7 linked regions of the Homo sapiens genome follow. The protein of the gene in region 1 purifies or fractionates together with the protein of each later gene. This does not show direct contact. Each region holds a gene or a part of one and is shown on either strand. Other genes may lie near its edges.

Evidence for each region.
Region 2: the proteins of ARPC2 (region 1) and ASL fractionate together in Homo sapiens (co-fractionation; one large-scale study listed by BioGRID). This does not show direct contact.
Region 3: the proteins of ARPC2 (region 1) and KIFC1 purify together in Homo sapiens (affinity purification with mass spectrometry; one large-scale study listed by BioGRID and IntAct). This does not show direct contact.
Region 4: the proteins of ARPC2 (region 1) and BOP1 purify together in Homo sapiens (affinity purification with mass spectrometry; one large-scale study listed by BioGRID and IntAct). This does not show direct contact.
Region 5: the proteins of ARPC2 (region 1) and SIK3 purify together in Homo sapiens (affinity purification with mass spectrometry; one large-scale study listed by BioGRID and IntAct). This does not show direct contact.
Region 6: the proteins of ARPC2 (region 1) and L1TD1 purify together in Homo sapiens (co-immunoprecipitation; one large-scale study listed by IntAct). This does not show direct contact.
Region 7: the proteins of ARPC2 (region 1) and CLCC1 fractionate together in Homo sapiens (co-fractionation; one large-scale study listed by BioGRID). This does not show direct contact.

The regions. Positions count from the first base shown.
Region 1 is NC_000002.12:218,251,519-218,254,848, forward strand, and holds the end of ARPC2 (actin-related protein 2/3 complex subunit 2), read left to right. Parts: intron 1-2,372; coding exon 2,373-2,397; 3' UTR 2,398-2,830; downstream 2,831-3,330. UniProt on the Homo sapiens protein: Actin-binding component of the Arp2/3 complex, a multiprotein complex that mediates actin polymerization upon stimulation by nucleation-promoting factor (NPF).
Region 2 is NC_000007.14:66,078,819-66,082,318, forward strand, and holds part of ASL (argininosuccinate lyase), read left to right. Parts: intron 1-2,984; coding exon 2,985-3,179; intron 3,180-3,500.
Region 3 is NC_000006.12:33,394,823-33,398,322, forward strand, and holds part of KIFC1 (kinesin-like protein KIFC1), read left to right. Parts: intron 1-3,206; coding exon 3,207-3,344; intron 3,345-3,465; coding exon 3,466-3,500. UniProt on the Homo sapiens protein: Minus end-directed microtubule-dependent motor required for bipolar spindle formation. May contribute to movement of early endocytic vesicles. Regulates cilium formation and structure.
Region 4 is NC_000008.11:144,274,439-144,277,938, reverse strand, and holds part of BOP1 (ribosome biogenesis protein BOP1), read left to right. Parts: intron 1-1,634; coding exon 1,635-1,715; intron 1,716-3,500. UniProt on the Homo sapiens protein: Component of the PeBoW complex, which is required for maturation of 28S and 5.8S ribosomal RNAs and formation of the 60S ribosome.
Region 5 is NC_000011.10:116,857,429-116,860,928, forward strand, and holds part of SIK3 (serine/threonine-protein kinase SIK3), read right to left. Parts: intron 2,177-3,500; coding exon 1,837-2,176; intron 1,272-1,836; coding exon 382-1,271; intron 1-381. UniProt on the Homo sapiens protein: Positive regulator of mTOR signaling that functions by triggering the degradation of DEPTOR, an mTOR inhibitor. Involved in the dynamic regulation of mTOR signaling in chondrocyte differentiation during skeletogenesis.
Region 6 is NC_000001.11:62,193,577-62,197,648, forward strand, and holds the start of L1TD1 (LINE-1 type transposase domain-containing protein 1), read left to right. Parts: upstream 1-1,272; 5' UTR 1,273-1,345; intron 1,346-2,858; 5' UTR 2,859-2,952; intron 2,953-4,072.
Region 7 is NC_000001.11:108,942,985-108,946,484, reverse strand, and holds part of CLCC1 (chloride channel CLIC-like protein 1 isoform 1 precursor), read left to right. Parts: intron 1-2,427; coding exon 2,428-2,649; intron 2,650-2,869; coding exon 2,870-3,010; intron 3,011-3,500. UniProt on the Homo sapiens protein: Anion-selective channel with Ca(2+)-dependent and voltage-independent gating. Permeable to small monovalent anions with selectivity for bromide > chloride > nitrate > fluoride.

The sequences.
Region 1 (3,330 bases):
TGTGATCCCCAGCCAGGCTCAACCTCCTGGGCTCAAGCAATCCTCCCATCTCAGCCCCCCAAGTAGCTGGGACCACAGGCATGCACCATCACAGCTGGCTAATTTTTGTATTTTTGTAGAGACGGGATTTCACCATGTTGTCCAGGCTGGTCTCGAACTCCTGGACTCAAGTGATCCTCCCACCTCAGCCTCCCAAAGTGTTGGGATAACAGACATGAGCCACCACACCTGGCCCAGCACTCAGTACTCTTGAGGCAAAGTTTTAGTGGGTGTGGTACGCCTAGGGCTTTACACTCTCTCTCTTGCATTTGAGGGCTCTTCTACCAAGTTAGTTTCTGCTGTCATTTGAAAGGATGAGAAAGAGATCAAGGACTTGAGCAGTAGGTGAGGGTTTTCAGACATTGTCAAAAAGCAGTTTAAGGCCAGGTGCGGTGGCTCACGCTTGTAATCCCAGCACTTTGGGAGGCCGAGGCAGGCGGATCACCTGAGGTCAGGAGTTGGAGACCTCCAGCCTGACCAACATGGAGAAACCCCATCTCTACTAAAAATACAGAATTAGCTAGGCATGGTAGTGCATGCCTGTAATCCCAGCTACTCTGGAGGCTGAGGCAGGAGAATCAGTTGAACCCGGGAGGCAGAGGTTGCGGTGAGCTAAGATCGCACCATTGCACTCCAGCCTGAGCAACAAGAGCGAAACTCCATCTCAAAAAAAAAAGCACTTTTTAAGTCACCTCGACTTCTTTAGGCAAAGGCCTGTCTCTGTAGCAGCTCAGAGAGGAGTGTCCAAATGCCATGCAATGAAATGGCAGCATCGTTTCTTTTCTGCAGCTTCTTGGGCAGATCTTTAAATGGGCAAAGTGACCAACAAGGTGGGTGGGCAGGTGAGAGGATGTGCTTGCTGCCTCTCCAGAACCTAGTCTCCATCCTGGTGTCTACATTTTCCCCTTTCCCTGCTTGCTCTACACAGGAGTACTTTTCTCACCGGGTACTTGTTTGGTGACCTGGAGTGTGAGGCAGTGAATTTCATGCTGCTTTCAGGGCCCAGTAGACAGGCAGTTCAGTAGAGGCCAAGAGGTAAACTGGCAGCCAGGTACAGTGAGAGGGAAGCCTGACCTGGCAGCCTGTGATAACCGGACTGGAAGGCTGGGCATCATAATAGTCTCAGGGCTGCCAGCATCACCTTTGGCACTGGTAGCTGCTTGTGCATCCAGGAGGAAGGCCTGTTAGGCAGCTGCTGCCCGATTCCACAGCCAGCAGGCAGTCGTGGGAGTCCCTGCCCAGTGAGTGCAGTTGTGTAGCGGGCAGGGATAGCTCCCTGTCCTGGTGAGAGACCCAGGAAGGGATGAATCCTTAAAATGAACAGACTGTTCATAAGCCTCCTCTCTGGGACTTAGAAAGAGCAACTTTGCCTTCTTCTGTGCTGCAGCTTCTCTTTGGCAGAGTTGGGCCCCAGAAAGGAGAAGCAGGAGACAAACAGCTGCATCCACCCTGAAAACCAGATTATGTTACTAATGGTGGGTAGGAGTTAAGTGACTCAGCTGTGGGCAGAAGCCAGGAACCCTCGATGGGCCGCCCAGAATTGAACACTCAGGAGCTTTTCATTTGGAGAGAAGGATAATAAGGTGTAGCTTCATTTTGGAATAAGCGATACATCCAAGACAGGGAAAATCTAGAGCCCATGTTTTTGCCCTGATTTCCCATAGTTCTCAGCTCTAGCTTCCAGGCTGCTTTCCCAGATACTGTTAGGTACCAGTTAGAGGCTCTGTCCTTGAGAACCACCTAGCCCATCTGGAGAAATACTGGGTGGAACAGGACACCACAATTCAGGAGCCTCGAACCAGGCAGGTGTTGTATAAGCCAGAGGAGGAGTCACCACGTGATAGCAGAAATACCTTTAGCCTTGGAAGTTCTGAGGATTGCTCTGAACCAGCCACCTGCCTTCATGGTGAGAGATAAAGGAACTGCTATCTGGGAGCCCTGAGAGGTATACACTGTGTAGGAGGAGCTGACAAATGAGGTAGTACTAAGAAGACGGTTTGAGCCTAGTCGGAAATTCAGGTACGTCTAGGCCATCCAGAAATTGTGAACAAGTGATTCTTCTATCTAACTTGGTACGTTGAATGTCCTTGTGGGCTTAACACTGATATTCCCGGGCATCCAAAGTATCCAATAGGAAGGAAGAGCTCGTGAAACCATTCTGTGAAAGCCAGATTTTAGCCGATGTCCTGTGGTTCCAGTGCCTCTGCTTAAGGAATCTAGCCCTTTCCACCTCTCATTTGGTGTTTCTTTGGGATCCCATCTAGTCTAGGAGTGTGGGGTGGGAGGAAAGGGCAGCCAGAAACTGACCTTCGCACTTATCTCTCCTTTTGAAGGGGGAAGACGTTTTCATCCCGCTAATCTTGGGAATAAGAGGAGGAAGCGGCTGGCAACTGAAGGCTGGAACACTTGCTACTGGATAATCGTAGCTTTTAATGTTGCGCCTCTTCAGGTTCTTAAGGGATTCTCCGTTTTGGTTCCATTTTGTACACGTTTGGAAAATAATCTGCAGAAACGAGCTGTGCTTGCAAAGACTTCATAGTTCCCAAGAATTAAAAAAAAAAAAAAAAGAATTCCACTTGATCAACTTAATTCCTTTTCTTTATCTTCCCTCCCTCACTTCCCTTTTCTCCCACCCTCTTTTCCAAGCTGTTTCGCTTTGCAATATATTACTGGTAATGAGTTGCAGGATAATGCAGTCATAACTTGTTTTCTCCTAAGTATTTGAGTTCAAAACTCCTGTATCTAAAGAAATACGGTTGGGGTCATTAATAAAGAAAATCTTTCTATCTTACATGAGAATTTGCTGGGTTTCTGGACTGCGAGTCCAAAGTGAGAAGAGAAGGAAGGAAGAAGGATAGACCTATACTACCCTTGAACCTGCAAACCTAAGCTGGGAAGCCCTAGTTTCAGGAGCCCATCAGGTTTAGATCCTCACCTTCCCTAGAGGAGAGAATGGCTGGCCAGTGAGCTATATTTAAACTTTTTTTTTTTCCCCCTGAGAGACAGGGTCATTACCTCCTGGGCTCGGGTGATCATCCCACCTCAGCCTCCCAAATAGCTGGGATTACAGGCGCATACCACTATGCCTGGCTAATTTTTTTTATTTTTAGTAGAGATGAGGTTTCGCCATCTTGCCCAGGCTGGTCTCAAACTCCTGGACTCAGGCAGTTTGCTTGCTTCAGCCTCTCAAAGTGCTGGGATTATAGGCATGAGCTATGGAACCCAGCGAGCTATTAATACAAACTTACATGCTTCCTTATAAAGCTTGGTCCCTGAGACTCTGTGGCTGCT
Region 2 (3,500 bases), on another chromosome or scaffold:
CAGATGAGGTTTCACCATGTTGGCCAGGCTGATCTCGAACTCCTGACCTCAAGCGATCCACCTGCCTGGGCCTCCCAACCCTGAGGGTTTTTGTTTTTGTTTTTGTTTTGAGACAGAGTCTTGCTCTGTCGCCCAGGCTGGAGTGCAGTGGCACGATCTCAGCTCACTGCAAGCTCCGCCTCCCGGGTTCACGCCATTCTCCTGCCTCAGCCTCCCAAGTAGCTGGGACTACAGGCGCCCAACACCCCCATGCCTGGCTAATTTTTTTGTGTGTGTTTTCAGTAGAGACGGAGTTTCACCATGTTAGCCAGGATGGTCTCCATCTCCTGACCTCGTGATCTGCCCACCTCAGCCTCCCAAAGTGCTAGGATTATAGGTGTGAGCCACCACGCCCAGCCCCTGAGGTTTAATAATAGGTGCCAGGCCAGGTGGTTAATAGAAGTCTGGGGCATTGTAGGGGGACAGAGGAGGATATATGTCCCCATTGGCCATTGTAGACTCCCTTCCACAAAAAGGACGTCAGTGAAGTGACATGCCCACCTCTACCCCACCCTCCTCCCAGTCCTGGGCACTAGGGCTGCTCCCCAGGTGTTCTGTACCCCCTCCCCACTCTGTCCCATGCCCTGGCCTCTGCCCTCTTTCAAAACATAGATGTGGCTGGCGCCTAGGCTCATGCCTATAATCTCAGCACTTTGGGAAGCTGAGGCTGGAGGACAGCTTGAGCCCAGGAATTCAAGACCAGCCTGGGCAACATAGTGAGACCCTGTCTCTACCAATTATTTTATTTTATTTTATTTTGTTCATTTATTTATTTATTTTGAGACAGAGTTTTGCTCTGTCACCTAGGCTGGAGTGCAGTGGCGTGATCTTGGCTCACTGCAACCTCCGCCTCCCGGGTTCAAGCGATTCTCCTGCCTCAGCCTCCTAAGTAGCTGGAACTACAGGCGAGTGCCACCACGCCTGGCTAATTTTTGTATTTTTAGTAGAGACCAGGTTTCACCATGTTGACCAGGATGGTCTCTGTCTCCTGACCTCATGATCCACCCACCTTAGCCTTCCAAAATGCTGGGATTACAGGCATGAGCCACCACTCCCAGTCCTATAAAATTTTAAAAAAATGTCTGGGTGTGGTGGCGCATGCTTGTAGTCCCAACTATTGGGGAGGCTGAGGCAAGAGGATTGGTTGAGACCAGGAGTTTGAGGCTGCAGTGAGCTATGATGGTGCCACCGCACTCCAACCTGGGTAACAAAGTGAGACCCTGTGTCTAAAAAAGAATTTAAAGGCCGGGTGTGGTGGCTCACACCCGTAATCCCAGGACTTTGGGAGGCCGAGGTGGGCAGATCACGAGGTCAGATTAAGACCATCCTGGCTAACAAGGTGAAACCACGTCTCTACTGAAAAAAAAAAATACAAAAAATTAGCCAGGCATGGTGGTGGGCACCTGTAGTCCCAGCTACTCAGGAGGCTGAGGCAGGAGAATGGCGTGAATCTGGGAGGTGGAGCTTGCAGTGAGCCAAGATCCTGCCACTGCACTCCAGCCTGGGTGACAAAGAGAGACTCCATCTCAAAAAAAAAAAAAAAAAAAAAGAATTAAAAAAGATTTTTTTAATGAACAAAACAGGCTCGGCACAGTGGCTCATGCCTGTAATCCCAAGCACTTCGGGATGCCAAGGTCAGGGGATCACCTGAGATCAGGAGTTCGAGACCAGCCTGACCAACATGGTGAAACCCCGTCTCTACTAAAAATATAAAACTCAGCCAGGTGTGGTGGCACACGCCTGAAATTCCAGCTACTCGGGAGGCTGAGGCAGGAAAATTGGCTTGAAGCCGGGAGGTGGAGGTTGCAGTGAGCCGAGATCACGCCACTGCACTCCAGCCTAGGCAACAGAGTGAGACTCTATCTCAAAGAAAACGAACAAAACATAGATGCCTACATACCATTCCTCTGCCCTTGGCTCCTGGGGAGTAAGGGATCACCCAGTGACCTCCTAGAAGGCCAGTGACAATGGGGGGTGTCAGGGTGCTTTTCAGAGCCAAGGGAGTGGTAGGAATTGGGATCTTAGTCCAGCTCCAAGCTGTGAGGGAGAGAGTTGCAGGGCACTTAAGCTTGGTGGAGACCCTCAAGGCCTCTTTGCCTGTCCCTGCAGCAAAGGTTCTGGACACCAGAGCCAAGTCCAGAAGCCCTGGTGGAACAGGGGTGAAAAGCATAGGTTCTGACTTCAGACTGCTGGGCCGCAGCCCTGGCTATCCCACCCCAGGTGAGAGCAGGCTGCTCTGTGCCTCAGTTTCCCCATCTTCATAGTGGAATTGTATTGGTGCCTACCCAGAGGGTTGTGTCAACAATTAGGATGGCACCTAGCACCTTGGTCAGTGGTGGGAAAGGTTCCAGAAGTTCTGCTGTGGTCCCAGGGGTGTCTCAGGCCCTGCCATCATCTCCTTGGAGGGGTGCCATGTGGTGGGAAAGAACCCCAACTTCAAGGCCACACACAGTGGCTCATGCCTGTAATCCTAGCACTTTCAGAGGCCAAGATGGGAGGATCACCTGAGGTCAGGAGTTCAAGACCAGCCTGGCCAACATGGTGAAACCCCATCTCTACTAATGATACAAAAATTAGCTGGGTGTGGTGGCACGTGCCTGTAATCCCAGCTACTTGGGAGTCTGAGGCAGGAGAATCTCTTGAACCTGGGAGGCAGAGTTTGCAGTGAGCTGAGATGGCACCACTGTACTCCAGCCTGGCCGACAAAGTGAGACTCTGTCTCAAAAAAAAAAAAAAAGAACCCAAACTTTTGGTGTTCAGCCATGTTCCCATGCTCACTCCCAGGGTGGTGACTCTGGGAAGGTCTCAGCCTCCTTGTCTGCCCAGTTAGAATGATCTGATGCCCCTGCTACCATCAGACTTGATAAGTTTCCCAAAGACTCTTTGCAAGAAGCACTGTTCTGGAGGGTGGAGGAGAGACTAATTGTTCTTGCTCTCCTGGCCAGAGTGGGAAGCTTTGGGGTGGCCGGTTTGTGGGTGCAGTGGACCCCATCATGGAGAAGTTCAACGCGTCCATTGCCTACGACCGGCACCTTTGGGAGGTGGATGTTCAAGGCAGCAAAGCCTACAGCAGGGGCCTGGAGAAGGCAGGGCTCCTCACCAAGGCCGAGATGGACCAGATACTCCATGGCCTAGACAAGGTACTTGCCGTGGCCCAAGCCCCACCCAAGGCCCCTTCCCTGTGGCCCCAGGCTCCCACCAAATCCCTGAGCAAACAGTGCAGTGTTGCCCATCTGTGGTTTCACATTGAACTAATTATATACTCAAGTGCTGTTTAACTGTGTGCCTTGATGACTGCCTCTCTCCATCCTTTAATGACCCCTGTGGCCCACATGGCTCATGGGTAAAGGTGTGCTGGGCCTGAGATGCCCCCTCCCAGGGTGCGCTTCCAGGACTCAGCTCCTGGGCAGGGACAGTCAGTCACCAGGGATAGGGTGGGACCAAGGCAGGGGCTCTCTTGG
Region 3 (3,500 bases), on another chromosome or scaffold:
GATCGAGGTCTGAGCTGGACATATAAATTTGGAAACTGTCAGCATATCAATGATATTTAAAGGCATGGGAGTGGATAGTGAGTATAGATAGAGAATGCTGTTAAAATCTGGAGAGATGAGGAGGACCTGCCAGTGAGGTAAGAAAGAGTGGTCTCCTGGAAGCTAACTGAAGAAAGCCTATTAAGGAAAAGGGAGTAATCAGTTGTATCAGATGCTGTTTGATGGGTCAAGAAAATGAAGATAAAGAATTGACTTAGCAACATGAAGTTACTTGTGATCTTGAGGATAGCAATTTCGATGGAATGGTGGGAATGAAAGCCTGATTGCAATGGGCTTAGGAGAGAAATTGGCCACGATGAATACACTAGAGGTAATACTTTAGAGTTTTGCTGCGAAAGGCGGCAAGGAAAAAGGATAGTACCTGTTAGGGAAAGCAGAGTTCAGATTCTTTTAGTTTCGAAGAAATAATAGAGTTTGTGGTATGCCAATTGGAGTGATGCCATAGAGTACAAAGCTGATGGTGCAGAGGTGAGAAGGGAGGATTGCTGGAGGAATGTTCCTGAAACTGGGAGGATTTGGCGAGTCCAGGATTTGGTGAGGAGGGATGGGAATGTGATGCATATATGAAAGGGTTGCCTTAGGAGCAGGGCCATCCACCTCTGATCTTGTGGTGAGGTGGATGTAGGCAGGGTTGCATGAATATCTGTTCTTATAGAAGGTTAAGTGCTTATGCTTCTCACTGTGGAAAGTTGGAGGGCATCATTCTAGCTTTATATTAATAGATGGGAAAAATATATATACTGTGGTCTTTGGAGTTGTCCTGAATAAACAAACCTTTAAACACATTTTCTGAACCGGCATAAATTCCAAGGAGGTAGGTCTGTAGCAGATCCACTACGGTAGTGTAGAGAGGAGGAAGGGCACAGGTTATTTTTAAAAATTAGTGTTTGACTTTGGAATACTTAAAGAAAAATTTGGTTTCCATACTATATTTGATTACACTAAATTAAAATAAGCTTTCTTTGTGCACACTTCTGTAGGTGGCAGGAAAAATGCTACCTCTTTTTTTCCCTTTTTATTTTTATAGAAGCCAATGGTATGGATATATCACAGTTTAAGTATTGCCCCACTGATGAACATTCAATTTCATTCCTTCAAAAACTGTAGAGTCCTACCATGTAGCAGACATTGTACTAGGCCCTCTGGTTATATAGTTATGAACAAAACAGATGAATTCTTATGGTGCTCACAGTCTTATGTAGGGGTTATGATAATAAAAACAAAAGAAAACAGTGTATCAGGTTGTTTCATGATTTTTAAAAATAATGATGCTCTGTGAACTTCCTTGAGTAAATCTCACTGTATCACGGGTAGCTCAAACTCACTTTCCCAAAATTGAACTTAGCATCCATGAAACCAATCCTGCTGGGTCCAGTGGCATGTGCTTGTTGTCCTAGGCACTTAAGAGGCTAAGGCAGGAGGAGCACTTGAACTCAAAGTTCAAAGCCAGCTTGGGCAACCCTGTCTCAAAAACAAATAAACAAAAAACAACTCTTCAGGTACTCAGATCTCTGTGTTATTTCTTTTCTTTTTCTTTTTCTTTCTTTTCTTTTCTTTTTTTTTTTTTTTTTTTGAGACAGGATCTCAATATGTCGCCCAGGCTGGAGTGCTGGAGTGCAGTGGCATGATCACGGCTCACTGCAGCCTTGATCTGGGCCCAAGCCATCCTCCCACCTCAGCCTCCCTTGTAGCTGGGACCACAGGCAAATGTCATCTGGTTCGCTAAGGTGGATGTCTGCCTAGCTTAGCCCTCAAGCTTCTAGAATAGCCCCTTTCAACTAGGTTCCATGAGAATTAATTTCTTTTTTTTTTTTTTGAGACCGGAGTCTCGCTCTGTCACCCAGGCTGGAGTGCAGTGGCACAATCTTGGCTCACTGCAAGCTCCGCCTCCCGGGTTCACGCCATTCTCCTGCCTCAGCCTCCCCAGGAGCTGGGACTACAGGCGCCTGCCACCACGCCCGGCTAATTTTTTGTATTTTTTAGTAGAGACGGGATTTCACCGTGTTAGCTAGGATGGTCTTGATCTCCTGACCTTGTGATCTGCCCGCCTCGGCCTCCCAAAGTGCTGGGATTATAGGCATAAGCCACCGCGCCTGGCCAAGTTCTTTTTTTTTTTTTTTTTTTTGAGACGTAGTCTCGCTCTGTCACCCAGGCTGGAGTGCAGTGTTGTGATCTCGGCTCACCGCAACCTCCACCAATCGTTCAAGCGATTCTCCTCCTTGGCCTCCCAAGTAGCTGGATTACAGGCACATGCCACCATGCCTGGGTAATTTTTGTAGAAACAGGGTTTCACCATGTTGGTCAGGCTGGTCTTGAACTCCTGACCTCAAGTAATCTGCCCGCCTCAGCCTCCCAAAATGCTGGAATTACAGGCATAAGCCACCGTGCTCGCCCAGAATTAAGTTCTAATGCCCTTTTTTTTTTTTTTTTTTTGAGACGGAGTCTTACTCTATTGCCCAGGTTGGAGTGCAGTGGCGTGATCTCGGCTCACCGCAACCTCTGCCTCCCAGGTTCAGGCGATTCTCCTGACTCAGCCTCCCGAGTAGCTGGGATTGCAGGCATGTGCCACCACACCCAGCTAATTTTTGTATTTTTAGTAGAGACGGGATTTCACCATGTTGGTCAGGCTAGTCTCAAACTCCTGACCTTGTGATCTGCCCACCTCTGCCTCCCAAAGTGCTGGGATTACAGGCATAAGCCACTGCACCCGGTCCAGGTGAAACATTTCAAACATGGCTCAGTAAATATTGCCTGATTCTCCCAAGCAGTCTTCAACACTCACATATCTTCCACTCTCTCCCTTGTTTATGATTCTCAGCTCCAGCCAAAAGGGCCAGTTGGTTTCTTAGCCATGCTATGTACATATTTGAATTTTTGCCTTCCAGGAAGAGCATCCATTCCTCTCTGCTTGTTTGAGTCCCACCCTTAAAGTTAGTCAAGTCCAGCTTTTCCCCTAGAGGTTATTCCCACTTTTAGGTTATGTCCTCACTTCTGTTCATGCTGTCTGGCACATAATTCAGCTTTTGGCACAAGTGGTGCTCAGTGCTTGGTGGTGGTGTTGACAATTGAGGCTGGGGGCCAAGACAGGAAGTTCTTGGGACATTTGGGCTCCTGGGTATTGTCTTAAGGGTCTCTTTTCCCAACAGAGGTCCCCCCTATTGGAAGTAAAGGGGAACATAGAACTGAAGAGACCTCTGATTAAGGCCCCTTCCCAGCTGCCTCTCTCAGGAAGCAGACTCAAGAGGAGGCCTGACCAGATGGAAGATGGCCTGGAGCCTGAGAAGGTGAGCTGGGCATGGAGAGCTGTGCATGTGTGTGGGGGGTGTGTGTGTGTGAAAGAAAGGAGAGAGAGAGTATAAACCATTAGGGAGGGTGACTATGGACCTTGTCTTTATCTTTCCCCAGAAACGGACAAGAGGCCTGGGTGCAACGACCAAAAT
Region 4 (3,500 bases), on another chromosome or scaffold:
GGCCTTTTCCTCTAATTTTTAAGTTAAAAAAAATACGTTCAATGCCCCACAGCATCTGCCTCCAAAATCTGAAGGGGCCTTCTAGGTCAGGCAGTTCCCAGCAGTGGCCGCCCCTGCCCGCACCGCCCCTGCCCGCACCGCCCCTGCCCTTCGGGCGCTGGGCCTGGCTGAGCGCCGTCGCCCCCTGGTGGACTCTGTGCCCCACAGCTGTCCCACGGGGATGCTGCGCCCCTGGGAACCCAGCACCTTCGAAGGCCACCTCTGCCCCCTGCCCAGAGCCTGCCTGTGCCGTGGCCTGTCCACATCCAGCACAGGGGCCACGGGGCACAGAGCGCTGGGTGACAAGTCTTTTGTCACCTGCCAGGACCCTGGGACTGCGGCCCATGAGCAGCGAGGCTGGGACTCCAGCGTGCGGTGCTTCAGCCCCGGCCACTGTGAGGGGTCGGGAGCCCAGCCCGGTACCCGTCCGCAGAGGCCAGGCGGGGGCAGCCGACCGCAGCCGGGTGTGGAACTGCCCTTGTGCGCGTCTGGGGCTTGGGGCCGGGGTCACGGATCTGCTGCGGCTGTGGGGGCTCATGTGCTCCAGGCAGGGGCAAGAGCTCCGTGTCACTGAGCGCCCCAGGCCACTGTCAGCAGCAGGGGGAGACGTGGAAACTGAATCCTTCCTTGTTCCTGGCCTGGGAAAAAACTTAGTCTCCCATCTCTCTTTATATTGAAGGAAAAAACAGGCAGGGGAGGAGCCCGGGCCGGAGAGAAGAGGGGCTCGGGGTGGGGGCGGGGGCGTGCCCGCCTTCGCTCTGGGGTTCCTGCGCCCGAGCACTTTACTGCCCCCACGGGTGAGAGGTGGGCCTGTTTTCCCCATCAGCCTTGGTTCCGCCAGTAAACCCGATCCGGTTGGAGCCATCCTCACCTCCGCAGTCGAGGGCAGAATCTGTTTTCCAGGTTGGGATGTGAATTCTCAGTGGCGCCCACTCTGTGACCCGGCGGGATGGGGTCAGCCTGGGCTGTGGACGTGGTGGGTGGGAGAACGCTGGGCAGGCCTTCTGAGTGTTCGGGGCCCTCTCTGGGCCCTCTGCTGGCTGGACTGGGCGGGACGTGGCCCCCGGGATGGGTGGACAATGTGTGTCCCCCGCCCCTTCAAGAGCATTGGCCCCAGTGACCCTGCTGCGACGGCTGCGTCTCCTTCTTCCCCCCGACCATGCTGCCCCCGTCCCAGGCGGGGCTCGGCAGGAGCGCCATGTGGGGCCCCTGGGAGGAGTCCTGTGGCTTTGACATGAATGGGGGTACGGGTGGTTGGCGGTGGGTCTTGGTCCTCAGCTGGCGGCTTTGCTCCTGACTGCCCCAGTGGCTTCCGTGTCTAGCCTGACACCCGTGTCAGCCCAGGGACAGAGGCCCCGGGAGGCTGCAGTCCAGCCCTCACAGAGGACAGGGCCGTGGGCAGGACCTGCGGCGCCGGGTGCCAGCCACAGCCCCCAGAGGCCCCCTTAGAGCTGGGTGTTCTCGGCCTTGTGCTGAGGCCTGTGCCAGGCTGGAGCTGCTCAGAGATTTCGGGGTGGTGGGCTTCCTGGGATCCCCCCAAGGTCAAAGGGTACCCTGTATCCCCTGAAGTGACCATTTTCTCTCTCTCTCTGCAGGCCAGCACTCCTTGCCCGAGGACAGAGATGGCGAGCGCCCGGATTGGGGATGAGTATGCGGAGGACAGCTCTGATGAGGAGGTAGGACTGGGGCTGCTTCCCACTGGGCAGGGTGGGGCGGCTTCCATCACAGCCTAGCAGGTGCTGGGGGTTGGGGCTGGGGTTGCCCTGGGGGTGCTGGGACCTGCCGCAGGTGGGCCGCACTGTTGGAGCCGAGGCCCACGTGGGCGTCCTGCTTCCCCATCTGCAAGAGCAATTTCGGGGTCTGGGACACAAGACTGCAATGTATGTGTGTCATCATGGCTTGTGAAGGGGAAGGACCTGGGTGTGGCTCCATGCCCCTGTGTCTGGCCTGTGGACGGGCTCTGGGGGCTCCTGTGGCGTCTGCAGGGTGGCTGTGGGCTCCCTGGGCGTGGCGTGCATGGTCTGGGTGGGGGTCATGGTCGGGGTGGGGGTCACGGGCATGGGTGGTGCCCCTGTCGTGTGTGCTGTGGGGTGGGCCACAGGTTGGCTGGGGGCCAGGCGGGCAGAACAGGGCCAGGGCCACCTCCTAATGTCCTGATGTTCTGGGCAGTGGTGGCCCTTCCCTTCCCCTGGGGTCCCCCTGCCCCCCACCCCTGGTGGTGGCTGATGTGGGCTGGGGCCGTTGCCTCTGGACCTCTGACTGAGTCCCAGGAGCACATCTCAGGAGGGGCAGGAGGTCGGCTGTTTCTCATAAGGAGCTTGCAGGCGAAGGGGGATGCGTGCTGCTGGGCTGGGCTCCACCAGCGTGGAGAGGCTGGCACCGGGCTGGGCTCCGCCAGCGTGGAGAGGCTGGCACCGGGCTGGGCTCCGCCAGCGTGGAGAGGCTGGCACCGGGCTGGGTTCCGCCGGCGTGGAGAGGCTGGCACTGGGCTGTGTCCAAGAGCAGATTTGGCTGCGGGGGGCTGCCCTCATTTGGGAGGGGCTGGAAGCTCTGAGAAGCTCTGAAGCCAGAGGCAGTGCCTGCCTATACCCTCCTCAGTGTGGCCTGGCCCCAGGGTAGGACTGTGGTCCCAGTGGAGCACCTGGGTGTGAGGCAGAGTCTCCTTTGGGCCCTGGGGGCTGTGGGGGAAGGAGAAGGCTTTGGTGTAGGGCCTTCCTGAAGGAGCTCTTCCTGCCTGCCTGTCAGGAACTGTCCCCGGGGGGCCTGGGGGAGACACGCGCCCCCCTCCCCCCAGGTTCTTCCCCCATCCTTCGGCTCTCTTGGCTGTGGCTGCAGGAGCCTTGGCCGCCCGCCCGATCCGGTCTCTGCTGCGCGTTCAGAGAACAGAGACAAAACAAAATAAATTGGTTTCCTGGCCGGAGCAGCGGGCTCACTCAGAGCGGGGGGGCCACGCCGCGCACTCCCTGCCTGTCTCCCCTCCCCCTCCCAGGGGCTCTGGCTGTCGGCAGCCACATCCTGTCGGCTACTTTTTTATATTTGGTATTTTGAGAAATCGATGATGATTGTAAACGGAGCGCGGAGGCCGGGGGAGGGGCCTCGGCGGGGCCTGTGGGACCCTGCTGCCCCTGGGGGTGCTTTGCCAGGCCTGTCCAGTGCCACCGCCGCCTGCCGGGTGGGCAGCCCCCTGCTGTGCTGGGAGGAAGCCGGCCAGGGATGTGGGGGCTGCTTCCTCCAGTGATGACTATCCCATATGTTGGTCTGAGTGACAGCGAGGGAGCCCGGGTGCTGCCCGGTGCTCCTGCCAGCACAGCCGGCCAGTGGCTCGAGGGGGCGGCAGAGCTCAGCTTTCAGGAGCCAGGCCAGGCCCGGACAGATGCCTCCCGTCCAGAGAAGTGCGCATCTGCCTGGGCCTCTGTTCCCTTGGAGCAAAGTGGGGTGGCCCTAGGGGAGTGATTTGGGGC
Region 5 (3,500 bases), on another chromosome or scaffold:
GGTGCTCTGACTCTTGTTCCCACACTATTTACACTAAATTATGTTGGGCTGACTTTTTTTCTATTGCACAAGTTTAAAGTTAGCTGTTTGGATGGCAGTCAGGAATTTCTGGATTCCAAGAAACTGTGGTATGAATAAGGGAAATGGATCATCTATCTTATTGACTAAGTGTTAATTTTGTATCATGGTCCTTTGATTTTGAAAATGGACCCCTTGCCCACCAATACCCACTTCCTACATGCTTCTCCCCAAGAAGGTCGTGAAGCTCAGAAATTCTTTTTTTCTTAGGAACACAGAATACTAGCTGAAAAAAGATAACATTACTGAGTCAGTTGATTAGGGCAGACTGGCCCAGGACTTCCACTGTGAGGAGACACTTACCTCTGCTGGGCACCTTATTTTTACTGAATGCAGCAGTTGGCTGATGACCATAGGGATGTATCCCCAATTCTTGGGCATGACTCACAGTTCCTAGCAAAGATTCAGGGTCCCCAGGTCCACCGGTACTCAAGAGCAGAGGGCTGTCATGGCAACCTTTGGTCAATGTACTTGAACTCTTACTGTCTTGGAAGCCATCCTTGGCCCCCTCACACGAGCAGTCCTCCTCCATGCTCTCTGAATGCATCAGTGCCGGCTGGTGAGCATACCCGTGGGGCGGGGTGGGTGAGGAAGCCTGTGAGACACATTCTTGTGCCCTGATTTGTAGCAGATGCTGGGGGCTGGTGTGATGGTGATAAGAGTCAGCATTTTGATAAGATAAAGCCTGGCGCTCTGTCATGCTCTGTCCCCCAAGGCTGGGAGCCAGACTCCCCGCATCCCCTTGGTTCATGTGCCTGAACAGTTCCTGGTATTCTTGCTGTTGCTGCTGTTGCTGCTGCTGCTGCCGTTGTTGCTGCTGCCTTTTAATGAGCTGTGCAAACTCTGTTGGGGGCAGCCGGATGTCCGAGTGGCCGGTGAGCGAATGCCGGGGAGAAAGCAGTCCTTGAAGGATGTGGGGTACCTGCTGGTGTCTTGTATAGTCTGGCGGCGTGGGAGACAGCAGGGCCTGCTGTAGTGCCGACGTGGTATAGTGTGGCGGCTGCTGATGTGCACTGGGAGGGAAGGTGGGGAATTGGTCAAGTGGAGGGACTTTCAGGGCTTGGGTTGGAGAGAACCCCACTCCTGTTGAAGGGCTGTAGCTGCTGGGGGAACCCCGGGACTGGTCCGAAAACAGATGGGGGTGTAAATGCGCCTGGTCGTAGTTAGCAGGGGAGAACCGATTCACGTTCAAGCTGCAGACACAAAAGGGAGTACCAGACATCCATGTAACAAGTACTAGACTTCCTGGGAACAGCTCCTCCTCCTCAGTAGGGAGAACCCACTGGTACAGAGAACTGTGGTGTGACAGAGAAGTGGCAGATGTATGCATTGTCCCTATTTATTCCATTACTGGCTTGTCCAGTAACCTCCAAGGGACTGAGGGCACTGCGTGGGTAATAGATCTAGCTCATTTTGAAGGAAGCAACTTCAAGATGCTCCCTTCAAGAAAAGGGGAACTGGAATTTTTATACATTCCTCTAACAGGCCATTTTCTTCTTTGCAAGCAAATAATAAGGTAGCAAATAATAAGGTAGCTTTCCCATTTTCCACCTCAGTCTCATTAGAATTTTAACCCTGGGTCAATAAAAAGCTGACAAGTTCATTCCAAACCCAGCATCCTGATTTTAGAAAGCGTGAAACAAGAGCACAGCCTAGTCAGACCCATTCTCCTTCCCTCCTTTTCTCTCACTCTGCTAAGGGGCTTCCTCCCACCTGGATCCCATGCATAGATGGCTGGGTGACGTTAGGCGGTCTTACCTGTGAGCCTCTGCACTGTCAGCACTCAGCTGCTTGGACAAGGGACGGTGCCCATAGCTGAGGGTGGCCATCAGGTTGGTACGGTGCTGCATCTGCATCTGACCAGCACTGGGGCTGATGGAGATGCCGCGCCCACTGGAGCCTGCAGCTGTGCCTGGCATGTTGCTGAGCATGTCAACAGGCTCTTGGACTTGGATGGTGACCTGCTGTGACTGAGCAGGCTGCTGCATACCCAAGCAGGTTAGTGCCACGTTGGGAGGAGAGGAACAGTTCTCAGGTTGCTGCTGAAAGATTGCACTGCGGGAAGGTAAGCCTTGAAACTGGGAAGAAGATGCAGCCCCTGGAGAGAAAGGAACCTCAGAGTGACCAAGTGCCCAGGCCACCAGCCAGCCAGAAGTAATGAGAGCTAATGAGAATACTCAGACGACATACCAGCTAGAACAGTGCTTCTCAAACTGCACTGAGCATAGGACAAGTCTGGAGAACTTGTTAAACAGAAGATTCCTGGGTCCTATCTATATAATTCTGTTTCAAACTCTGATTCAGTAGGTCAGGATGGGCCCCTAAGAATTTGTGTTTCCAACAAGTTCCCTTAAAAGCTGGTCCATGGATTACATGGGGTAACTCGGATCTAGGCAGTGCTTCTTGAACTTTCACATGCACACAAATGGCCTGGCATCTGGTTAAAAATGCAGACTCTAGGCCGGGCGTGGTGGCTCACACCTGTAATCCCAGCACTTGGGAGGCCGAGGTGGGCGGATCATGAGGTCAGGAGTTCGAGACCAGCCTGGCCACCATGGCGAAACCCTGTCTCTACTAAAAATACAAAAATTAGCTGGGTGTGGTGGCGGGCGCCTGTAATCCCAGCTACTTGGGAGGCTGAGGCAGGAGAATCATTTGAACCCGGAGGTGGAGGTTGCAGTGAGCCGAGATCATACCACTGCACTCCAGCCTGGGTGACAGGGGGAGACTCCATCTCAAAAAAAAAAAAAACAGACTCTAACAGGTCTGGAATACGACCTGAGATCTTACTTTTTCTCCCAATATTGGTGGCTGGGGGACCCCACTTTAAGTAGGAAGAGCCTAGAGGCCAATTCAGACTCTTCTCAAGGATCCTAGGGAGACTGACTAGGGACGTAGCTCGTGGAGTGTTACTCAAGAGATCCTAAGACGGCTGACCTCTGAAGACTCACAGTCACATTATACTTATCTTCACTCCCATCTGTACACCCACAAGAGAGGGGCCCACGTGTATAGTAGACAGCCAAACGGAGGCATGTCTATAAGGAAGGTTCTGGTAGCTGCTTTTTATTTGGTAGGGCTGGAGGTTTTGTTAAAAATATTAATAATAGTAAACCTTTATTGAGAACTATTTTGTGCCAGAGACTGTTCCAAGTGTTTTACGTATATCTACATACTGTACCATAATTATCCTCAGTTGACATTTGAGAAGTAATATGGTTTGGCTCTGTGTGTACCCACATCTTGAAGTGTAGTCCCCATGTGTCAAGGGAGGGACCTGGTGGGAGGCGACTGGATCACGGGGCAGTTTCCTCCATGCTGTTCTCATGATAATGAGGGAATTCTTGAGATCTGGTTGTCTGATAAGTTTCTGGCGCTTTCCCCTGTGCAATCTCTCTCCTGCCACCATGGAAGATGAGCCT
Region 6 (4,072 bases), on another chromosome or scaffold:
ACAAAAAAAGAGTATTGGGATATGGGGAGTTTGGCTCCTGTAGAAAGGGTAGTCTGGGAGGCCTGTTAGAGGAGTTAACATTGGACCTGAGACCTGAGGATGAACAGAAGCCATCCTGAAAGAACTGGGAAAATAAAGAGGTGGCCAGGCGTGGTGGCGCACGCCTGTAATCCCATCACTTTGGGAAGCTGAGGTGGGCGGATCACCAGGTCAGAAGTTCAAGACCAGCCTGACCAACATGGTGAAACCCCCCTCTACTAAAAATACAAAAACTAGCCAGGCGTGGTGGCATGGGCCTGTAATCTCAGCTACTCAGGAGGCTGAGGCAGGAGAAATCGCTTGAATCCAGGAGGCAGAGGTTGCAGTGAGCCGAGATTGCGCCACTGCACTCCAGCCTGGGTGACATAAGAAAACTCTGTCTCAAAAAGAAAAAAAAAAAATACAAAAATTTTCCGGGAGTGGTGGCGTGCTCCTGTAATCCCAGCTACTTGGGAGGCTAAGGCAGGAGAATTGCTTGAACCCAGGAGGCCGGGGTTGCAGTGAGCCAAGATCATGCCACTGCACTCCAGCTGTGGCAACAGAGACTGTCTCAAAAAAAAAAAAAAAGAAAGAAAGAAAGAAAGAAAAAGAAAAAAATAACTCGCAGAGGAAACAGCCAGTGCAAGGGCCCTGAGGCAGGTAGTTCCGTGTTTTTTGAGGAACAGAAAGAGAGTGTTTCTGTTGTAAGAGTAGTGCTAAGACAATGTTGAAGGGGCAGTCCGGATAGAATGAGAAGGTAGAAATTTAACCGAAACAGGAAGCCACTGAACAGTATTGGAGGGGGAGAAGGATTACAGAGGGGTCGTGGGAGAGGCCAGGGAGCAGTTGGAGGTGATTTCAGTGATCCAGGTGAGAGACAACGGGGGCTTGGACTGGGCTGGAGCTGTGGAGTTGGAGAGACGCCGGCAAATTCAAGGACTTAGGAATGGATTAACTGCGAGGGTTGAAGAAAAGGAATGAGGTGACCTTGGGGTTCAGGCCTGGGTGATGAGGCGCTTTAGTGGTGCCTTTATTCAGATTTGAGTCTGGAGTCGGGTCTGAGGGGTGGGGCTCGTTCAAGCGGAGGCACGGTGGAGACAGAGGGAATTGGACTCAGTCGGGGGGCAGCAATGGAAGTCAGCAATTGCTTAGGGCGGAATGCGATTTCCGGGGAGGAGGCGCGGGTATGTAGACAGAGGGGGTTGGGACACACCAGGAGGGGAGGAGCCAGCCCCAGAGATCGGGAATCCTCTCAGTCCTTAGTTACAAGGCTCCATCCTCACTTTGTTCGCTCCTCAGTCGTCCAGGCGGATTCCTTTTTCGCCAGGTAAGGCTGGCCCGGGTGCATGGGGCCCGGCGTGCCCTGGGTAAGGCTGGCCCAGGCGCGTGGGGTCCGGGGCGCGCCGGGTAAGGCTGGGCCAGGCGCGTGGGGTCCGGGGTGCCCCGGGTAAGGCTGGTCCAGGGGCGTGGGGTCCGGGGTGCCCCGGGTAAGGCTGGTCTAGGCGCGTGGGGTCCGCAGCGCCCCAAGTAAGGCTGGTCCAGGAGCGTGAGGTCCAGGGTGCCCCGGATAAGGCTGGTCCAGGCGCGAAGGGCGCGGGGTGCCCCGGGTAAGGCTGGCCCAGGTACGTGAGGCCCGAGGTGCCCCAGGCAAGGCTGATCCGGGTGCGTGCGTGGGGCCCGGGTAGGGGCAGGCAGTTGGCCCCCTCACTTGACTCCCTGCTCTTTCCCTTACTGTCCGTGGCGCAATGAGAAAAAAACTCTCCTAAGACTTATCTATCCCCAAATTGGAAACATGAAAGTAGTTCTGTGAAGAAAAAATAAAGTCAAGAAAATGAGGTGGTGCTTGACAAGTCCTAGCTTTAGAAAAAGGATGGAGGGGCCGGGAGCAGTGGCTCACGCCTGTAATCCCAGCACTTTGGGAAGCCGAGGCGGGCGGATCACCTGAGGTCGGAGTTCGAGACCATCCTGACCAACATGGAGAAACCTCGTCTCTACTAAAAATACAAAATTAGCCAGGCGTGGTGGCGCATGCCTGTAATCCTAGCTACTCAGGAGGCTGAGGCAGGAGAATCGCTTGAACCCGAGAGGCAGAGGTTGCACTGAGACGAGATCGCGCCATTGCGCTCCAGACTGGGCAACAGGGGCGAAACTGTCTCAAATAAAAAAAGATGGAGGGCCGGGCGTGTTATTTTCCAGCACTTTGGGAGGCCGAGGCGGGGGCGGATCACGAGGTCAGGAGATCGAGACCATCCTGGCCAACTTGGGAAACCCCGTCTCTACCAAAAATACAAAATTAGCCGGGTGTGTTGGCTCGCGCCTGTAGTCCCAGCTACTAGGGAGGCCGAGGCAGGAGAATCGCTTGAACCGGGGAGGCGGAGGTTGCAGTGAGCCGAGATCGGGCCACTACACTCCAGCCTGGGCGGCAGAGCGAAACTCCGTCTCAAAAAAAAAAAAAAGTGTTTAATTATGTGACTGGAAAAATTGATTTGGAAGTAATAACTTTTGCATTTTCTTCAATTTCCTCCGATTGTTAGGCAAATCGAATTCTTGTTCAAATTGCAAAAGGAAAGCGTGCCTTCCATAATAATAGACCCCAACTCTCACAAAGAAGAAACCATTCTCTCCGGCCCCTCCCTGGCCTCCTCAGATCCACCTCTGGGTCCTCCCATTCCCTGCAGCCCTCTCCCGACTTACACCCCAGACTCTGCTAATTGTGTGTGCCTTTTTAAGCAAACACATGCATAGATAAGTGCTTTTTTTTCCCAGTCTTCAATATAAGGTGATTTTCTACATTAAATAAACCTTAAACTTTGGTGTTATGAACTTGACTTGAATTCTAGGCACCAAGGCACAGCTTAGAGTAGACCCGAGTCCTGCTCTGCGGAGTTCGTCTTCCCAGCGAAGGTACAGAGGCGGATGAACTGCTGAGACTTGGTAAGTAGTTTAGTGGATTAGGGGTAGGATTAGTGGCGGGTAAGTGTGCGGGTGGGGTTGGGGTGGGGTATTTCATTTTTTGAGACGGAGTTTCGCTCTTGTCGCCCAGGCTGGAGTGCAATGGTGCCATCTCCGCTCACTGCAACCTACGCCTCCTGGGTTCAAGCGATTCTACTCCCTCAGCCTCCCAAGTAGCTGGGATTACAGGCGCCTGCCATTATACCCGGCTAATTTTTGTATTTTTAGTAGAGACGGGGTTTTGCCATTCGGCCAGGGTGGTCTCGAGCTCCTGACCTCAGGTGATCCTTCCACCTCCATCTCCTAAAGTGATGGGATTACAGGCGTGAGTCACTGCGCCTGGACTGGGGAGGGGTATTTTAGAGTGAAACAAGGGAAATGACCTTGGGTCTGATAAAGAAATGAGCCCTACTTATAATCTAGTGTGGGTCAGGACCCTTTTGCAGTCTGGTGCTATTAGCAGAACCCACAGTTCGTCATCGCTAGAAACCACATTTTGTTTCACATAACAGTTGTTGCAGGTTTTGCATTCTCACTACTTCAAGATTAAAAGGTAGGGCCAGGTGTGGTGGCTCACACCTGTAATCCCAGCACTTTGGGAGGTTGAGGAGGCCAGATCACTTAAGGTCAGCAGTTCGAGACCAGTCTGGCCAACATGGCGAAACCCCATCTCTACTAAAAAGTACCAAAATTAGCTGGGCATGGTGGCACGCTCCTGTAGTCCCAGCTACGTGGGAGGCTGAGGCAGGAGAATCGCTTGAACCTGGGAGGTGGAGGTTGCAGTGAGCCGAGATCCTGCCATTTCACTCCAGCCTGGGCAAGAGTGAGACGCCCTCTCAAAAAAAATAAATTATATATATATATATATATATATATATATATATATAGTTTAGTCCTGCTACTCAATCTTGTTTAGTAGTAGGTTAAGAAGCTCATATATTCCAAATTTTTTATTATCTAAAAAAGTTTTTTAGAGATGGTTTTGCTATGTTGCACAGGCTGGTCTCAAATTCCTGGCCTCAAGTGCTCCTGCTGCCCCGAAAGGTGCTGGGATTACAGGCTTGAGCCACCGCACCCAGCCCAGCACTTTGGGAGGCCGAGG
Region 7 (3,500 bases), on another chromosome or scaffold:
CCACCTTATTCTGGAAATGTAGAAGCAGATGCGTTCTCATACGTACACTCTGTAATTTGAGCCTTACAGCTACGTACAGGGTGGAACAGAACCTAGATAAGGAAACAGATGGAACCAAAAATACTTAAGATGGAAATGCTGGAAAATATTTAGTTTCTGATTTTTTTTTTTTTTTGAGACAGAGTCTTGCTCTGTCACCCAGGCTGGAGTGCAGTGGCGCAATCTCCGCTCACTGCAAGCTCCGCCTCCCAGGTTTACACCATTCTCCTGCCTCAGCCTCCTGAGTAGCTGGGACTACAGGCACCCGCCACCATGCCCGGCTAATTTTTTGTATTTTCAGTAGAGACAGGGTTTCACCGTGTTAGCCAGGATGGTCTTGATCTCCTGACCTCGTGATCCGCCTGCCTCATGCCTCCCAAAGTGCTGGGATTATAGGCATGAGCCACCGCGCCCGGCCACGTCTGGCTAATATTTTTGTGTTTTCAGTAGAGACAGGATTTCACCATGTTAGCCAGGCTGGTCTCAAACTCCTGACCTCAAGTGATCTGACCGCCTCGGCCTCCCAAAGTGCTGGGATTACAGGTGTGAGCCACCATGTCCCACCTTGTATTTACTGTTTATAAAAGAAAAAGGAATTTTATTTGTATCAACTGGCTAATTAATGCAAAATTTGTTTAGTGATTTTGCTAAGCTGAACTCACACTAATAAAGGTAGTTATAAATATGTAATTTATGGAAACCCATTATTTTGTTGCTCTTTGAGATCCTTCTTGTTTTTCTTGTTTGCACTAATACAGATTTTAGGCTATCTGAAAACTGTCAGGAAATGAAAAGTCATGCAGTGAATCATAAAATGAAGATGCACAGTTGATCCTCATTCTTCACAGATTCCGTATTTATGAATTGACCTCATTAAGTCTGTGTAACCCCAAAGTCAATAATCGAGGTGTTCTGTGGTTACTCTGGGACACAGTGAAGAGTGGTAAAAAATTTGGGTTGCCTGTTGCAGGCATTCCCAGCTGAGATGGAACAAGGCAATCAAAACTGTTTTCTTGTTTCAGCTCTCGTACTGCAAACAAGTGTCTTTTTTTGTGGTCTATTTAGTGGTATATTTTTTCGTGCTTTTTTGAGGGGAGAGGGGTGATTTTTTTTATTTTTATTTTGAGACCAATCATTAAACAGCATCATTTCGTTGTTTAAAACGGCCCTCTGATGTAGTGCTGAGCTGAGGTCTAGTGTTTCTAAGTGCAAGAAGGCCACGATGTACTTACAGAGAAAAGGAAAAGGTGTGTATTAGATAGGCTTCAGTCAAGCGTAAGGTATAGGACAGTTGTCCATGTGTTCAGTGTTAGTGAATGAACAATATGTATTTTAAATAAGGTGTCCTTAAACAGGAATGTACAGAAACACACATAAAACAAGGTTATATATTGATCAATTGATAAAAATGTTATGACAGGTTTGCACGAACCAAACCCTGTATTTATTATAGGAGTAATGGTTCAGTACTTGCTAATTGGTGTTTGAGGTGACTTTATAGAAGATAACTACTGTGAGGCCGGGTGCAGTGGCTCACGCCTGTAATCCCAGCACTTTGGGAGGCCATGGCGGGCGGATCATGAGGTCAGGAGATCGAGACCATCCTGGCTAATGCGGTGAAACCCCGTCTCTACTAAAAATAGAAAAAATTAGCCAGGCGTAGTGGCGGGCACCTGTAGTCCCAGCTACATGGGAGGCTGAGGCAGGAGAATGGCGTGAACCCAGGAGGTGGAGCTTGCAGTGAGCAGAGATTGCGTCACTGCACTCCAGCCTGGGCGACAGAGTGAGACTCCATCTAAAAAAAAAAAAAGACGATAACTACTGCGAATAGCAAGAATCAACTGTATTTTAGTGAAATTTACAGTATCTTTTTTACATAGAGTTCTAGAATTTTTAAATGTTTTTCATGTATATTATCTTTGGTTTTCATGTTGGCCTGTGAAGACAGGTGGATATTATTATTATTTTTTTTTTTTAGAGACAGGGTCTTACTCTGTCTCCCATGCTGGAGTGCAGTGGTATGCTCATAGCTTACTGCAGCCTCGAATCCGGGGCACAGACAATTCTTCTGCCTCAGCCTGCTGAGTAGGCAGGAGCCAGGTGCACACCACTGCACACAGCTAATGGTTAGAATTTTTTGTAGAGATGGGGTCTCGCTTTGTTGCCCAGGCTGGTCTTGAAGTCCTGGCTTCAAGCTATCCTCCCACCTTGGCCTGTCAAAGCACTAGGATTATAGGTGTGAGCTACCTTGCCCAGGCTATTATTCTTATACATATGAAATACTGCAAACTAATATTTAGTTCCAAATTGGCTTTTGTCTTAAAATGGTTCACCAAGTAGTAATAAAATTCTCTTTCTATTGTTTGTTTTTTGGTAAATTTAATTTAGCCTGATGAAAACAAAGGCGATATGCATTATGATGCTGAGATTATCCTTAAAAGAGAAACTTTGTTAGAAATACAGAAGTTTCTCAATGGAGAAGACTGGAAACCAGGTGCCTTGGATGATGCACTAAGTGATATTTTAATTAATTTTAAGTTTCATGATTTTGAAACATGGAAGTGGCGATTCGAAGATTCCTTTGGAGTGGATCCATATAATGTGTTAATGGTAAGATGGGATGAGGGCAAGGGCAACGTCATTAAGTTTCCTTTTTAAAATACTTTCCAAACTCCACCATAATTACGTTAAGAACCTGTACTAGGTCACTTATACCGTATTGATGAACAAGCCACAAAATTGTAGAAATGATTTTGTGCTTTTGAGTCCAGTTCTTTTTAGCTGTCTTAAGTGTTTTTGGTGGCTGATTTCTGCTTCTCTCTGTTTTAAGGTACTTCTTTGTCTGCTCTGCATCGTGGTTTTAGTGGCTACTGAGCTGTGGACATATGTACGTTGGTACACTCAGTTGAGACGTGTTTTAATCATCAGCTTTCTGTTCAGTTTGGGATGGAATTGGATGTATTTATATAAGGTATTATATGGATGGAGGGTTTTACAATTTTAACACATTTATTCACAATGAAAGAAGACTCTAATCCATTGAGAGCAATCTTGCCTTGGATGTGGGTTGGAGGCAGTGATTAGAGGTGGCCCACGCTGGAGAGGAATTAAATGGACACTTCTTAGCTGACAGTTTTTTGATTCCTTGACCAGTTAGTGGGTAAAAAAGTTCAGTCCTAATTTTCATAACCCAGTTAATGTTAACATTTGGGCATCTAAGTCAGAATAAAGCCAGGTGGGTTGGGTGTGGTGGCTCATGCCTGTAATCCCAGCATTTTGGGAGGCTGAGGTGGGCAGATCACTTGGTCAGGAGGTCAAGACTAGCCTGGCCAACATGGTGAAACCCTGTCTCTACTAAAAATACAAAAATTAGCTGGGCCTGGTGACGTGCACCTGTAGTCCCAGCTACTCAGCAGGCTGAGGCAGGAGAATTGCTTGAACCTGAGAGGTTGCAGTGAGCC